Linked DNA regions of Homo sapiens: regions 2, 3 and 4 are each reported to be linked to region 1. The links are microRNA targets in miRTarBase. Many come from high-throughput screens and were not tested one by one. Region 1 holds a microRNA gene; each other region holds the end of a gene's coding sequence.
The links. Region 1 holds the annotated microRNA hsa-miR-4786-5p (UGAGACCAGGACUGGAUGCACC, at 1,063-1,084, opposite strand). A microRNA usually pairs through its seed, bases 2 to 8, with sites in the 3' UTR of a target mRNA and lowers its output. Matches are read on the target gene's strand: a 7mer-m8 pairs with bases 2 to 8, a 7mer-A1 pairs with bases 2 to 7 and ends in A, and an 8mer does both.

Region 2: the mRNA of PDK3 is a reported target of hsa-miR-4786-5p. The part of its 3' UTR that is shown has no 7-base or 8-base seed match.
Region 3: the mRNA of LRP3 is a reported target of hsa-miR-4786-5p. Seed matches in the 3' UTR shown: 7mer-A1 at 975-981 and 7mer-A1 at 1,128-1,134.
Region 4: miRTarBase lists ZNF714 as a target of hsa-miR-4786-5p. Seed matches in the 3' UTR shown: 8mer at 1,739-1,746, 8mer at 748-755 and 7mer-m8 at 722-728.

What each region holds. Positions count from the first base shown.
Region 1 is chr2:239,942,001-239,946,066 of GRCh38, forward strand. MIR4786 (microRNA 4786) reads right to left here and starts at 1,094; the gene lies at 1,015-1,094. It also overlaps a transcript of NDUFA10 not described here. RefSeq lists enhancers at 2,785-3,721, 3,290-3,339, 3,470-3,579, 3,722-4,066.
Region 2 is chrX:24,533,779-24,537,844 of GRCh38, reverse strand. PDK3 (pyruvate dehydrogenase kinase 3) reads right to left here. Exons shown (of 11, transcript NM_005391.5): 11 at 3,423-3,916. The coding sequence ends at 3,773. Among named protein-coding and RNA genes, the nearest start is that of PDK3, 71 kb to the right of the region's middle.
Region 3 is chr19:33,206,842-33,210,907 of GRCh38, forward strand. LRP3 (LDL receptor related protein 3) reads left to right here. Exons shown (of 7, transcript NM_002333.4): 7 at 147-2,023. The coding sequence ends at 734. SLC7A10 (solute carrier family 7 member 10) reads right to left here. Exons shown (of 11, transcript NM_019849.3): 8 at 3,961-4,057; 9 at 3,626-3,775; 10 at 2,467-2,644; 11 at 1,823-2,180. The coding sequence ends at 2,050. Among named protein-coding and RNA genes, the nearest start is that of LRP3, 15 kb to the left of the region's middle. RefSeq lists an enhancer at 276-777.
Region 4 is chr19:21,117,935-21,122,000 of GRCh38, reverse strand. It overlaps ZNF714 (zinc finger protein 714), which reads right to left. Exons shown (of 5, transcript NM_182515.4): 5 at 1-4,066. The coding sequence ends at 3,669. Among named protein-coding and RNA genes, the nearest start is that of ZNF431, 22 kb to the left of the region's middle.

The DNA of each region.
Region 1 (4,066 bases):
CTCTGAAATGAGAAAAACAAATGGATTCTGCATATTGAAAGATCACACCATGTGTGCACAAACTATTTCACTTGGAATCACTTTGGTCTGAACACCAGTGATTCTTTTGCCGGACTGCCTTTGTCCACCTTCCTATAAATTAGTTTTACATATACAAAGTTCACAACAGTTTTCATCCCTCTACCACGTTTACCTTTACTTACTGTGGCTGTCTTCAGCCTTTCCTCTAGGGCAGCGGTGTTCACGCGGTAGTGTGCGCTGCAATCACCTTGCTAAACACAGATGCTGCTGGGGCCCACCCACCAGGGCGCCTGAGCCAGCAGGCCTGGGTGCAGCCTAGACACCTGCATTTCCGACAAGCTCCCAGGTGGAGGCTGGGGCCGCTGGTCCAGGAGCCACACTTGGAGAACGATGGATTTCTGTCAATAGCAATTTCAGCCTTGCTATGTCGTTTGTTGCTGTTTGAAATGTATTGGTTTGGTTCTGACACTGTTTCGGTTCTGTTTGCTTCCTGAGGTCTGACATCTTATTTTCATTTCTTAGTCTTATACGTTGTTGACATTTATTTTATTGAATTCATGTTCTTATCAAACTGTTCTCTTAGGCAAAGCACAGGAATATTTTTTTTTTCTGTTCACGAGCTGTGCGTCCTCTGCCTTCCGCATGTTTATCTTGCGCATGCTGTGGTCCCTTCTCCAGCACTGAGTCACGGGTTTCTCTGTGGGACGTTTGCCTGTCACTTGCCCTCCCCTTCCCTGCCTTTCCATTCTCTTCAAGCCCGAGCAGCTCTGACTGGGTCCTCATATGTTTTAACACAGCACTGGAGGGGTTTTAACTCTTTCCACAAAACCTGGCAAAGGCTCGTCTTCCCCTCTTAGCCACAGGAAGCCCAGGCAGTTTGTGTTCAGGCCACCTTCGGGAAGCCTGCAAGGATGGTGGTGGCAGGAGGAGCTCAGCCGAAGTGGAAGAAGGTTCGTTCAAATGCTGAGGCTCTGCTCCTGCTTCTGGAATCCTGTGAAATGGCCCAGACCAGAGCTGGCTTCACCTCATCACAGGGAGAGTGGTGCATCCAGTCCTGGTCTCAGGCCATGCCCACAGGCCAACGCATCCCTGGAGCCTCCACTTCTTACGGAGAGTTTCAACTCACAGTTATCTTCCCATGTCTGCCAGAGGCATTGCAAGACTCCCTGTCTCCAGATCCCAAGCACAGAGGCGGCCTGGGGCTCCGCTTGTGTACCAGTGGGACTCAGGCTTGGTGGCAGGTCAGAGCCACACGAATCTGCCTTCTGCTCTACTCTGAAATCTTTTGCTTATTTTATTGGCTACTAATTTTTCTTTCTTTTTTTTTGAGATGGGGTCTCACAGTGCCACACAGGCTGGATGGAGTGCAGTGGCGCAATCAGAGCTCACTGCAGCCCCAATTTCCTGGGCTCAAGTGATCCTCCCGCCTCAGCCTCCCAAAGTGTTGGGATTACAGGCGTGAGCCACTACACCTGGTCTTTGGCTACAAATTTTCAAAGTGTATGGCCTTGTTTGTTTTCTGCTGGGATTATTTTTCTAGTTTTTCCTTTCTATTCTGTTAGGGACTGGGGGCAGGACACTGTGATTCCGCTTAATCCTGCTGTCTTTGACATTTTTTTAATGTCCATGAGCAGGGACAAATCTTAGTCTCATAAGAATGTGCCTGATTTGGGAAGCAGGCCTCACTCAGCACCGACCGCCCCTCCTGGCACAGCACTGGCATCCCCTGGTGTTCCATAAACACAGAGACTGAGAGATGAGCAGACGAGTATGGGCCCTGGATGCTCCCTGCAGCCCCTCTGCAGAGCTGGACCTGCAGTCCAAGACTCCTTGGGGATGAGGGGTCTAGGGTTTAGTCCCTGTCCCTGGACAGTGATGGAGCTAAAGGCATGGGGCAGCGTCTGTCCCTTTTATGGGGGGAAGCTGAGGCTGCTGGGGGCAGTGCCTGTCCCGAGATGTCCCCAGACTCAGGTGCTCTGCTCCTTCCTTCCCATAAATCCTGGGCCTCCCCTGTGTCCTAAGGGCCTGCGGCCACCTGGCTAGTCCTGTTGCTGGTCCTCCTCCAGGTGCAGGGCACCGGTGCCCGCAAAATGAGCCACCCTGCCCCTGACCACTGCAGCCAGGCCCCTGAGAGGAGGCACATGACTCAGCCCACCCCCTCCTGGCATTGTTATCCTCCTGCCAAGATCCTGAGGCCATGCCAGAAAGGACCTGGGGCCAGCCTAGACCTTTCCATCATTTCACGTAGGCAGCAGCCTTGCCAAAGTCCCCGGGGGCAGAGCGGCTGTTTGGGTCTGGCGTCTGCTCCAGCCTGGCGTCCCCCATGCTGAGTGTGGCCCCAGGGCCAGCGCCGCAGGCTGAGATCCCAAGGCTGCATCTCTGGCTCGGACCTCTGGTCACGGCTCAGGCTGGGTGCCTGGCTGGCCACCTCCCCTCACAGTGCTGTCAGACTCTCAGTGAGCTCATGGCGGGAAATGATTACCTTTCCATGTGAATTCAGGCCGGGTCTGGACAAGTGAGGAGGTGCACTTTCCTCCACATCTGTTTGAAAGTGATTTTCTTCATGGAACTGGCAGCGCGGATCAAGAAAAATGACTCAGAACCGACAAAAACTCCAGGTCTTCCAAGGAAACAAAATCAAACACCAGTGTGCCTAATGGAAGCCTCTGGCAGCCTGGAGAGTGCAGCTCGACAGCCCCTGGTGGTCCCAGGGCCTCTGCTCGCTCGTTAGCCAGGGTTTCCAGCTCAAGGAGCAAGCTCTGTCCACGCCCAGAGCCACCTGCCCCTGTCCCCAGAGCCTTGGGGCCATAGTAACTTTGGAGGAAACTGGTCCCCAAAGCTCGGCCAACCCGCCACCATCCGCAATAGAAGGCAAAGGCTGCAGGACCACCCTAGGTGGGGGGCACACTGGCCCTCCCAGGCTGCACCCCGCGCCCAGAGCTCATCTCCAGACACAGCCATGGGGGTGACTTCCCAGGGGGCCTGTGGAGGCTGCTTCTTTATTGCAAGGTGCCTCCCCGAGACAGAATTCCATGGTTTTGGTAGCAGACTCCCAGGCAAGCCTCCCTGCCTCTCCTCTCTCTATCCTCTACAGAAACCCAGGCACGTGTACAGCCATCAGAGCCCCGGCACCCCTCCCGCAGGAGGGCCTGACTGGGGAGGAAATGACAAGCCACTTCTCAGGTCACCGGCAGGCGTTGAGCAGGCCGCTCTGCAGACGCTGGGCTCCTTCATTTGCACAACCGCAGCGGCAGCGCCATCATTCCTCCTGCTTTGCAGCCAGGAAGACACGAGCTCACAGATCAGCAATTTGCCCAAAGTCACGCTGCTGCTGAGTGGAGACAGGAAATCAGAGCCTCCTTGCTACCCAGACCAAGCTCCTCACCTCTGAGCGTCGCTCCAGCTCCTTTCAAAGACGCTGGGAGGCCCCTCGGGGGAAGAGCGGACACCCCAACCGGAACGCAGGCTGCACCGCGAGGCTCCCTGCGCCCCACCGAGCCGGTCAGGGCTGCAGTCTACCCCGTATGGCCAGGCTGGGAGGATCCTGGGGGCTGAGGCTCCCTCCAGGGAGGACTTGGCCACACACTGGTCCTTCATGAACAGTTTTCTCACGGAATGGATCGATTGGCCCTGGGATGAAAACCAGCATGTCAGAGCAGAAGCATCTCCAGAGCTTCCACCCAGTTACTTTGTATTTTTTAAACACACAATGAATGTGCACACCAAGAGAAGTGCTGCAGCTCAACCAGGCATCACGGCCAAACGTGCAGAGTGGACCACTCCAGACCCCCCTGAAGGCCGTCCCCAGGCTTCAAGGGCCCACAGGGCTCCGGGACTGCAAGCCAGAAGCACCCTGTGTGCAACCCAGGTGCCTGGAGCAGGAGGGTGGAAGACACTGCGCTGAGAATGGGATCCGCTTGCGGACAGGAAGCAGCCCAGAGCCTCACATAATGAGCTGCACCCCCAGACCAGGACAGGAGAGGAGGGCCCCAGGGATTCCGTTCTGAACAGGGAGCCCAGGCTTCCAGGGCAGACGTGTCCCTTG
Region 2 (4,066 bases), not on the chromosome of region 1:
AGCAATATTGCGTAGCAGTCCACCATGACACTTCCATAGAAAAAAATAAACATCCATATGGATATCATTTATAACACTTGTCAGAGAAGACCAACGCTACTAAATGGTACAATACTGCAAAGCTATATAAACTGTATTTGTGTACAAATATCTTTCTGTTGCATTGTGTTAAAGATGTTAAAAATCAAGGTTTTCAGGATAATAAGAAATATATACAATTAAAATATATTGGGGAGAAACATTACAATGTTAAAATAGAATAAAATATCAATATGAACTTATGATTTAAAATATATTTTAAATATAGCTATATTTTATAGCTCTGTCTGTCAAGGAAAAGGGCCTAAAAAAGGTATAACAAGCATCCCCAATTATCAGATTAGCATCTCTAATACTGATTAAAAAGAAACAGGGCTGGGTGCAGTGGCTTATGCCTGTAATCCCAGCACTTTGGGAGGCCAAGGCAGGCAGATCACCTGAGGTCAGGAGTTCGAGACCAGCCTGGCCAACATGGCGAAACCCCAACTCTACTAAAAATACAAAAAAAAAAAAAAAAAAAAAATAGCCAGGCGTGGTGGCTCATGCCTGTAGTCCCAGCTACTTGGGAGGCTGAGACATGAGAATCGCTTGAACCCAGGAGGTAGAGCTGCAGTGAGCTGAGATTGCGCCACTGCACTCCAACCTGGGTGACAGAGTGAGACTCTGTCTCAAAAAAAAAAAAAAAAAAGAAAAGAAAAGAAACAAGACTCCTTGAGGGAAACAGTTGATTCTAGGACACAGGCACAGAAGGTATAAGATGAATCTAGGATATCATCTTGGGCAAGAAAAGCTTTCAAAGATTAATGAGTTTTGGCAATAGAACACTAAGGATCCAGCTGGAAATAGCTCTCATTGGCCAAAGGTATGTCAATTCAAGCATCAAAAAGGAAAATGACTGTTACATGCAATAACATGGATGAATCTCACATAAAGCCAGACACAAAAAGAGTATAGACTATGTGTTCCTTGTAAATTCAAGAAGAGAACCTATGGTGATAGAGTTAGAAAAGCAATTATATGGTGGAGGAGGGAGGGACAACTGTTTGACTAGAAAGGAGTCTTTGTGGGTAGAGGAAATATAGATGTAAAAAAAAAAGCTGTAAACTTAAGATGTGTGCACTTTACTATTACTATATGTTATGCTTCAATAAAATAAGTGCCAATTAAAACATATCAAAGTAACAAAATCTACTATAACACTAAAAAAGACAAAGCCATAAACTCATTTGTTAACCATTTAAGGTGGCTTTTAACATATTTCTTACCTGGAAAATTGGTAACTTGAAGGGAATTTAATTGTCCCTTTAAATTTAAAAGGAAGGAGTTAAACAGTTACCAGAGGAACTGTACTTCAAAATACCTAAATGGCCTTATTTGATGAGGAAGAGCTTTACTTTATAGGAGAATAATTGACAAAGGAATGATTTAAAAAAAAAACATTCTTTTATAAACCCAAATAAAATTACTGTGTTAATTTTAACACAGGCCGAAATGATCAATTGGGGTAAAAACCATTAGGTGAACAGCTGATGGGTAAGTATACATTTGCATAGTGCCAAAATAACACCACACAGATTATTTTCTAGTGAAAAAGGGAAAAATAACTATAACTCAGAGGGATCAGACAGCCATCACCTAAACTATGCTCAATCATAACATCACTAATGGTGGGTCAATGAGATGTCATGGGTCTCAGTGTAATTCTGCAACAGTGTTTATGGATATTCTAGCAAAAAATGCTCCATTAGCTCTTTCCTTTCCTTTCCTTCCCTTCCCTCCCCTCCCCTCCCTTCCCCTTCCCCCTCCCTTTCCTTCCTTCCTTTCTTCCTTTCCTTCTTTTCCTTCCTTTCCTTCCTTCTTTTCCTTCCTTTCCTTCCTTCTTTTCTTTCTTTTTTTTTTTTTTGACCAGCATGGACAACATGGCAAAACCCTGTCTCTACTAAAAATATAAAAATTAGCCAGGCATGGTGGCCCACGCCTGTAATCCCAGCTACTCAGGTGGCTGAGGAATGAGAATCACTTGAAGCCAGGAGGCAGAGGTTGCAGTGAATGATCATTGACATGGAAAGATGGGATGGTTAAATGAAACAAAAGCAGGTTGTAAAATAGTATGAATAGTGTAATCTCATTTGCAAAAAAAATACATATATACACAAATGGCAAAATATCTGGAAGAATATACACGAAGCTATAGCAGTGGCAATCTCTGGGTTTTGGGAACACAGAGGTTTCTCCTTCTTTTTTGGCTTACTTATGTTTTCTTTCTTCTTCTTCTTCTTCTTCTTTTTTTTTTTTTTTTTTGAGATGGAGTCTAGCTCTATCGCCCAGGCTGGAGTGCAGTGGTACTATCTTGGCTCACTGCAACCTCTGTCTCCTGGGTTCAAGCAATTCTCCTGCTTCAGCCTCTCAAGTAGCTGGAATTACAGGCGTGTGCCACCACACCCGGCTAATTTTTGTATTTTTAGTAGAGACAGAGTTTCACCATATTGGCCTGGCTGGTCTCCAACTCCTGACTTCAAGTGATCCACCCACCTCGGCCTCTCAAAGTGCTGGGGTTACTGGCGTGAGCCACTGCGCCCAGCCAATGTTTTCTTATTTTTTATAATGCACATATACTGCTTTTTTGTTAATACAGGATTATTTTAAGTTAAATGAAGCAGAACCCCACTGTTGCTAGTAGAGTTGAAGCTTAAGGGTACATAGTCAGAAGAAAACTACAGATTATTTTCCTTATTACCATAAAACAGTGAAACTTGTTCTGTGATTGATAACTTTTCCTTTATAATGTTAACATTTTTTATTGTGATAAGCTATACATAACATAGAACTTACCACCTTTTTCTTATTTGAGACACGGTCTTATTCTGTCCCCCAGGCTGGTGTGCAGTGGTGCGAATCATAGCTCACTACAGCCTGGAAGTCCTGGGCTCAAGTGATCCTCCCGCCTCAGCTTCCTGAGTAGCTAGGACTACAGACCCACACCACCACACACGGCTAATTTTACCTTTTTAAATTTTTTGCTGAGACAGAGGTCTCACTATGTTGCCTAGGCTGGTCTTGAACTCCTGGCTTCAAGAGATCATCCAGCCTCAGCCTCCCAAAGTGTTGGGATTACAGGCGTGAGCCACCACACCCAGCCCAGAACTTACCATCTTAACCATTGCTACATGTACAGTTCAGTGGCATTGAGTACATTCACGCTGTTGTGCAAGCATCACCACCATCCATCTCCAGAAGTTTTTCATCTTTCCACCTGAAACTTTGTACCCATGAAACAATGCCTCCCCATTCCATCTTCGTCGCTAGCCCCTGGCAACCTCCCTTCCACTTTGTGTCTCTGCATTTGACTACTCTAGGTACTTCACATAAGTGGAATCATAGTATTTGTCCTTTTATGTCTGGTTTATTTCACTTAGCATAATGACTTCAAGATTCACCCATGTTGCAGCACATATCAGAATGTCCTTCCTTTTTAAGGCCAAATAATATTCCATTGGATGGATAGATCACCTTTTATCTTGATTGATCATTTTAACTTATTTTTCAGTTTCAACCTACAACGTTTATGAGGACAAACTGCAAACTTAATTGCTTTTTAAATAAAATTGATGGCAGGCCAAATCCCTGCTTGCTGTTGTGAATACCTCTACACTGCAAGAATTCCTGGAACAGTGAGTGGGACACCTTTATTCAGACAAATCAGATACTTTGTAATGGAAATCAAGGTGGTATATTACTGTTTTGCTTTGTATTTTGAAGCATCCCTGGGTTCACTGCTGGGATTGCTCCAATCATCGGCTTCAGGCGTGGTCTTGTAATGGCGCCATGCGGACTTATTAAAAACTGGAAGTCTCTCAAATGACTCACTTGAAAGAGCCTATTGGAGAAACAAAAATATACACCAAAGGTCGACAGTGTCATTTTTCTCAAGTGAAATAGTAACCCAAATTTTATTATTTAAAACATCAGAAACCTTAATACATATTTTCAAAATGATATTAAAATTACACCTTAGTAGTTTACTTAG
Region 3 (4,066 bases), not on the chromosome of region 1:
CTGAGGGCCCATGGCCAGGTGGGGGGGGTGGACAAGGTGGTCTCTCGGGTCTCAGGTCCCTTGGGGGTGTGCTGTCTCCTGCCCCTGAGCAGCCTGTCTGCCCCCTCAGCCGCATCCCCCCGCCCCTACCCTGCTCCACCCCACAGGCCTCTGTGCTGCAGAATCTTCGCACAGCCATGCGGAGACAGATGCGTCGGCACGCCTCCCGCCGGGGGCCCTCCCGCCGCCGCCTCGGCCGCCTCTGGAACCGGCTCTTTCACCGGCCGCGGGCGCCCCGAGGCCAGATCCCACTGCTGACCGCAGCACGCCCCTCACAGACCGTGCTGGGCGATGGCTTCCTCCAGCCTGCTCCAGGGGCTGCCCCCGACCCCCCAGCACCGCTCATGGACACAGGCAGCACCAGGGCGGCCGGAGACAGGCCCCCCAGTGCCCCCGGCCGTGCACCGGAGGTGGGACCTTCAGGGCCACCCTTGCCCTCGGGCCTGCGAGACCCAGAGTGCAGGCCCGTGGACAAGGACAGAAAGGTCTGCAGGGAGCCACTGGTAGACGGCCCAGCTCCTGCAGATGCACCTCGGGAGCCCTGCTCAGCCCAGGACCCGCACCCCCAGGTCTCCACTGCCAGCAGCACCCTGGGCCCCCACTCGCCAGAGCCACTGGGGGTCTGCAGGAACCCCCCGCCCCCCTGCTCCCCAATGCTGGAGGCCAGCGATGATGAGGCCCTGTTGGTCTGTTGACCGCTGGGCTCGCTGGTGACCGCCACAGCCCCGCTTTGTAACCAGGGAATACACAGTCATTTCTACCCTGCCTCTGCGTCCTTTCTTATGGAGAGGCCCTCCGGGGACCCCAGCGGAGGGGCTGGCCCCTAAGCCAGCTGGCTGCACTGGTGGGCGGGAGCTGTGGGACTGAACGGCGGGGGGGAGAAGAGTGGAGTGGTGAGCCCGTCTGCAGGGTCCCATTGTACACAAGCACCCTGGGGTCTCACTTCTCTCCCCCCACTCCATTCTGGGAACCCATTTCCAGAGAAGCAGGGGACCAGAGCCTTTTTGCTTCATCTGCCCTGCAGTGGCAACAGCTGCCCCTAGAGCTGGGAGTTGTCATGAGGATGGGGCCGGGCCATGGGGACGCTGGGTCTCATCCGTGGTGACTATTTTGCTCACGCCTCACCCTCTTCCTGTCCAGCAAGGCCTCTGGAGGACCTGGGTTGGGTGGCTCCTGCCAAACCCTCATGCCCCTGGCCAGGCAGGCGCCCTTTGCCCTCCCTGAAGGTCCAATCTCCTGGGCACCGTGGAAGGGCTGGGGTGTGTGCCTGCTGTACATGAAGCCCCTGGAGTTCCCTGCAGGCCTCAAAGCCCCCAGGACATGCTGCTCTGTGCTTTCTGGGGACAGAGAGGCCGAGGCACCAACAGCAGTGGCCACGTCTGTTCCATCCTATCTCAGGGCCTCGGTTTCCCCACCTGTAAGCCAGGGTGAGACTGTGGGCTCTGAAGTCCTGACCTTCACTCTGTGGTGATTTACGGGAAGAAAGACAATCCCAGCCTGGAGCCCCTGAGCTCTCCTGGGTGGCCGAGCTCAGACTGGCATCGAGGGGCCTGGGGTAGGGGCGGACTGAGCTGCTACCCCATCCTCGACATCCCTTTAGGGCAGGGGGACTCTGGGTGCCATGGTAGGGAGCGCCTGTGTCAAGCAGCAAAGCCCCCTAATGTCAAGAGCCTCCTCCAGGGCCTGCCACGGCATCTTCCTGGCCAGCAACATGTGTGCACCCACCGAGGTACGCCCCAGCCACTCCCATCTGTGCCCATCAGGGACTCCCCATAGCACGAGCGAACAGCCAGCCCTGTTTATTTATAGGCCTTTTCAGGAAGAGCTAGCAGGGCAGTGCTAAGACAGGAAACCCAGTCCACATTTTAGGGCTTCCTTAAACAGGCTTCTGAGAGTCGTATCTTTTTTCTTTTTTTTCCAGAAAAAAACAAAACAAAACTTTTTTGCCAAAACACCTCCTCAATAAACAACATGTAAACAGAAACAACTGCTTCAGTCTCTACAAAAATCTCATTGTGGCTTCGAGGGCTTGTCTGTGGCAGGCAGCAGGGAGGGTGGGCAGGGGCCATTCTCCTCCTCTTCGGGGGCGTCCTGGGGGTAGACCACGAAACACAGCTCCTGGCCCCAGTGTGTCATGGACTCTGAGGACAGACAGATGGACCTTGGGGCCTGACCTCTCGGGATAGGGGTGACCCCCAGCTCCGGACACCTCCCCTTGGGCAGGGGTCTTCAGGGAGTTGCTCCGTCGGTACCCGTGGTTCTGGAAACTTTGGGTACATCTTGGGAAGAGACATTTGGTGGCGGCTGGGCCCTGTGTTCCCACCTCAGCTGCTAGGACACCCTGCTCTGGGGTGAGCCTCTAAGAGGGAGGTCTGGTCTCCAGGCCCCGGCCCCCTGTGCTGGGTGACCTGCAGCTGCCCGGCTCACCTGTGAGTCTGTGCACACACTTTGGTTTGCTTCTCCAGAACACTCCCAGAAAGAAAATGGGCACCCCCGTAAGGATGATGATGACGCCGACCCCACAGACCATAGGCTCTGAGATGAAGCTGAAGACCAGCAGGAAGGCCCAGAAGACCAAGTACGCCACGGGGATGAGAAGGTTCACCTGGGGAAGGGGGAGCAGAAACACCGATGGTGCAGGGCCTCCAGCTGTCTGTACCCCCGACCCCTGGGGGTCTGGGGAATTTTCCTCCCTTCCCTGGGAGCTGAGGCCTGAAGGGCAATTGCACCCACTACACCCCCTCTTGGCGACAGCCCAGTGTGTTGGAGGCCAATTCATGGGTCAGGCCGTTGGCCAGTTTTGCTGAGGATTTTTCAAAGTCTCAGCGGCACCGAGCTCCACACAGCGGTTGCGTGTGGACTTGAGGCTTGCACTTGGCTGGAGGTCAGTGATTTTTTGGTGTTTCACATTTCAGGCACTGAGCACTTCTCCACTTAAGGATTTATACACACATGGGGGGCTTTGCTTTTAGCTCAGGCTATGGTCTTCTGTTTTTGTGTGGGCTCATGAAATCCTGGCAGCCTTTGTGACCTTGAACAGTTCCTGAGTCTCATTTTCTTTAATTTTTTTTTTTTTTTGAGACAGGGTCTCCCTCTGTCACCCAGGTTGGAGTACGGTGGCCCTAGCACCGCTCACTGCAGCCTCAACCTCCCGGGCTCAAGCGATCCTCCCATTTCAGCCTCTCAAGTAGCTGGGACCACAGGTGCGCACCACCACACCAGGCTAACCCTTTTATTTTTAACTTTTTGCAGAGAGGAAGTCTCGTTATGTTGCCCAGGCTGGTCTCAAACTCCTGGGCTCCAGCAATCCTCCCACCTCGGCCTCCCAAAGTGCTGGAATAGGCATGAGCCCCTGTGCCCAGTCCTGAGCCTCATTTTCGCCATCTGTACACTGGGAGCATTCAAAGCTCTGTCCTCATGGGGCTGCTATGAGGAATGGCTGCCTCAGTGCACAGAGAGCCCTGAGCAGGGCCCAACACTCCACAAAAGCTGGCACCTCCCATCCCACCTGCCCCTGGTGCCCACTGTGGATGCAGGGGTGGCTCTGGCAGCACCCGGCACAGGGCCAGCTGTCCCAGGGCCTCACCTTGATGGGCCTGTGGAGTGCAGGCCGCCTCCAGCGCAGCAGCAGCAGGCCCAGGATGGTGACGCCGTAGCAGAGGTAGTTGATGAAGGACACATAGTTGATGAGCGTGTACGTGTCGCCCACGAGCATGATGACGGCTGTGGCCCCGCACTGGGAGAGGACCTGGGGCTGACGGCTGGCCCCTAGCCTGCCTCCTGACGCCCCTGCAGGATGAGCCCTGGCCCCACCCCCAACCCCCACCCTGGAATGGCTCACCCCTGCCATTACCCGGAAGGTCCTGCATTGCCGGGTAGCCCTGCCTCCACGCCCTGCCTGGCCCAGGTCCCCCAACTTACACAGACGAGGAGGGCGGGGATGGGGGTGCAGTGTCTGACGTGGATCATGGCCAGCAGGCTGGGCAGGTGCCCCTCGCGGGCTCCAGAGAAGCACAGCCTAGCGTTG
Region 4 (4,066 bases), not on the chromosome of region 1:
TAAATAAAATGTAACTTAATACACTACTTTTGGAATTACATCTAAAAATTATTTTGTGTGCACTAAATTTCATAAAAATTCTTATAATCACAGACCAGCTCATATAATGAATACTTCCTAAACCATAAAACAAAAAAAATGTAAGAAACAAAAAAAGTATGGGTCTAGCATGAGTACCAGGCAAGTATATACAGAGAATTTGCATGAAAAGGTTCAGAACTGTAAGTCATGGATTGTACAGTAATAAATTCAATACAAAGCACAAAGTATACATTTGCTTTCAGCATTTTTTAAGGTTTTTAGTTTTATAGTAGCCACCTTATTAAAATGATTTTTATTCCCATATTGTTCTTTTCTGAAAATAGGTACAAACTCATACTCACACACACACACTTATTCCATAATTTTCTTACACCTAAAGTTTGTCTTTAGACTAATACATATTTAACTCTATGTGAATCAAAAAGTCTGCATGTTTGCAGGCAGACAGGCCACATGTTCAAAGAAAAATATATAACAATTTGGAAAAAATATTAATAGTTTAGAAATGAATTTTATTTATACTCATATATAATTTGTATTATGACCATAAAAATAACTCTATAGTAAATAACAATTGTACATTTTAAAATTTATAAAAAGTGGCCGGGCACGGTGGCTCATGCCTGTAATCCCAGCACTTTGGGAGGTCAAGGCAGGCAGATCATGAGGTCAGGAGATCGAGACCAGATCACGAGGTCAGGAGATTGAGACCATCCTGGCTAACATGGTGAAACCCCATCTCTACTAAAAATACAAAAAATTAGCCGGGCATGGTGGTGGGCGCCTGTAGTCCTAGCTGCTTGGGAGGCTGAGGCAGGAAAATGGCGTGAACCCGGGAAGTGGAGCTTGCAGTGAGCCGAGATTGCACACTCCAGCCTGGGCGACAGAGCGAGACTCCGTCTCAACAACAACAAGAACAACAACAACAAAAAATTTTTAAAAAGTGTAGGTTTGGATTGTTTGTAAAACAAAGGAGAAATGCTATGGGTGAAGGATGCCTCACTTAACCCTGATGCTACTATTATATATTGTATTCCTGTACTAAAATATGCCATATAAGTGCATAAATATATACTCATATTATGTACCCACCAAAATTAAATTTAAATGATTAAAAACAAAATAAAAATTTAACCTACAGAAACAATATTCTTTAACTTATTTGCGGTTTAAAGCCACTGGCAAAAAAAATTACTAGAGATGTTAATCCATTATGTTACTAAATAGTATATCGTTACCATCTTTTACCTATACCCTTCAGTAAGGTGGAACAGGGTAAAGTTTGTGGTATAATAATGCTTCATTGAATGCACAATAGTATTTAACATGTTAAAAATGTTAAACTATTAACTTCACACAATCTAAAATTTTAAAAATGTACTGCATCTTATATAAAAGTACAATTAGTATGATAAACTAAATTTTAAATAAAATTAAATGTTTTTTCATAATGCAGAATATTACTCTGAACACCAACCTCATGCACCACTCAATATTATAAGTTAACCCCAAAGAACCTCTCCACTTACATTTTCATTATGCATCTTACATTCTAATGTTTTTACTTTTCAATAGAAAAGATCACAAATAATGCCCACCTAATAAAAAAGAATCTCTTGCCAGGAGCAGTGGCTCATGCCTGTGTAATCCCAGCACCTTTGGAGGCCAAGGTGGGTGGATCACAAGGTGAGGAGTTTGAGACCAGCCTGGCCAACATGATGAAATCCTGTCTGTACTAGAAACATAAAAATTAGCTGGGCGTGGTGATATGCGCCTGTAATCCCAGCTACTCAGGAGGCTGAGGGAGGAGAATCGCTTGAAACTGGAAATTGAAGGTTGCAGTGAGCCGAGATCATGCCACTGTGCTCCAGCCTGGACGAAAGAGCAAAACTCCATCTCAAAAAAACAGAACAAAACAAAGAAAGAATCTTTCATATCTTTGATACAGCAATAATTGATCCCATGCTTTCACATGTGAATCCAATAGGAATGAAGAAACGGCAGGAATTTCAGAGTTGAATGACATCATTATTCACTTTTCAAAAAATCTGTAATATTTTTCAAGAAATAAAGTATACTTTGAATGTAATTATAACTGCAAAAAACCTTCTGATCCTCTTAAAGTTATATACAAATAATTTTTCTACCAACTTTAATTTTCTATACTCAGCCCTCTGATTTAGTATATCTGATGTTGTCAGTGCCTTATGTATTTCTACCATAAATTCTGATATTTACACAGACTTACTTATGGATTAAATTTTTTTTAACTTTTACTGCATCTGCAAAAATATATTCTAGTATGAACTCTGTTTTCTAAGCTGTAGTTTTTGAAAAAGTGTTTTTCCAAATTTACTACATTTGCATGATTTTTCTTCAATATAAATTCCCTGATATTGAACAAAGTGTGAAAGTGCTTCAGAGTTTTTCCTCTACAAAAAATGTCTACAATAAGATCTGTGATACAAGTAAAGGCACTACTACCCACTTTATATTTGTAACATTCATCTTCAAAATAAATATTCTTCACTGTAAAGTTCATATTTTCTTTTTTTTTTACTTTTTAGATGGAGTCTTGCTCTGTGGCCCAGGCTAGAGTGCAATCTCAGCTCACTGCAACCTCTCCCTCCCCAAGTTCAAGTGATTCTCCTGCCTCAGCCTCTTGAGTAGCTGGGATTACAGGCACCACCACCGCAACCGGCTAATTGTTGTATTTTTAGTAGAGATGGGGTTTCACCATCTTGGATAGGCTGGTCTCAAACTCCTGACCTCATGATCCACCTGCCTTGGCCTACCAAAGTGCTGGGATTATAGGCCTGAGCCACCACGCCTGGTCAAAAGCTTGTATTTTCTGAAAGGTCTTTTGACAGTAATTGTACTTATAATGCTTTTATTAAGTATGAACTATCTGGTGTTGAGATATGAACATATATTAATGGCTTTTTCAGTCTTTATATTTGTATAATTTATCTCAAGTACAAATGCTTTCCTGTGCAATAAGGTGTGAGCACTGGTTAAGTTTTGCCACATTGTTCACACATGTAGGTGTTTTCTCCAGTATGAATTATCTTACCTACAATCAAGTGTGACAACCATTTAAAGGCTTTGTCTCATTCTTCAGATTTCTAAGATTTCTCACCAGTATAATTTCTTTTATGGTTAGAAAAGTTTGAGGTGTTGTCAAAAGCATTGCCAGATCTTTCTGGTTTGCAGAGTTTCTTTCCAGTATGAATTATGTTATGTCTGTTAAGAATTGAGGGCTTGTTAAAGGCTTTGCCATGTTTTTCACCCTCGTAGGGTTTCTGTACAGTATGAATTTTTAATGCCTAGTAAGAGTTGAAGACTGGTTAAAGGCTTTGCCATATTCTTCACATTTGTAGAATTTCTCTCCAGTATAAATTATTTTCTTAAAAAGGTTCGAGGACTGGTTGAAAGCACTGGCACATTCTTCACAATTGTAGGGTTTCGTTCCAGTATGAATTTTCTTTTCTTTTTTTTTTTTTTTTTGAGACAGAGTCTTGCCTTGTGGCCCAGGCTGGAGTAGAATGGCGCGATCTTGGCTCACTGCAACCTCTGCCTCCCAGGTTCAAATGATTCTCCTGCCTCTGCCTCCCAAGTAGCTGGGATTACAGGCGCCTGCCACCACACCCAGCAAATTTTTGTATTTTTAGTAGAGATGGGGTTTTACCATGTTGGCCAGGCTGGTCTTGAACTCCTGACCTCGCGATCTGCTCACCTAGTCCTCTCAAAGTGTTGGGATTACAGGCATGAGCCACCATGCCCTGCTGAATTTTCCTATGTTTAGTAAGAGTTGAGGATTGGTTAAAGGCTTTACCACATTCTTCACATTTGTAAGATTTCTCTCCAGTATGAATTATGTTATGTTTAGTAAGGTTTGAGGATCGGTTGAAAGCTTTGCCACATTCTTCACATTTGTAGGGTTTCTCTCCAGTGTGAATTCTCTTATGTGTAGTAAGGTTTGAGGATCGGTTAAAAGCTTTGCCACATTCTTCACATTTGTAGA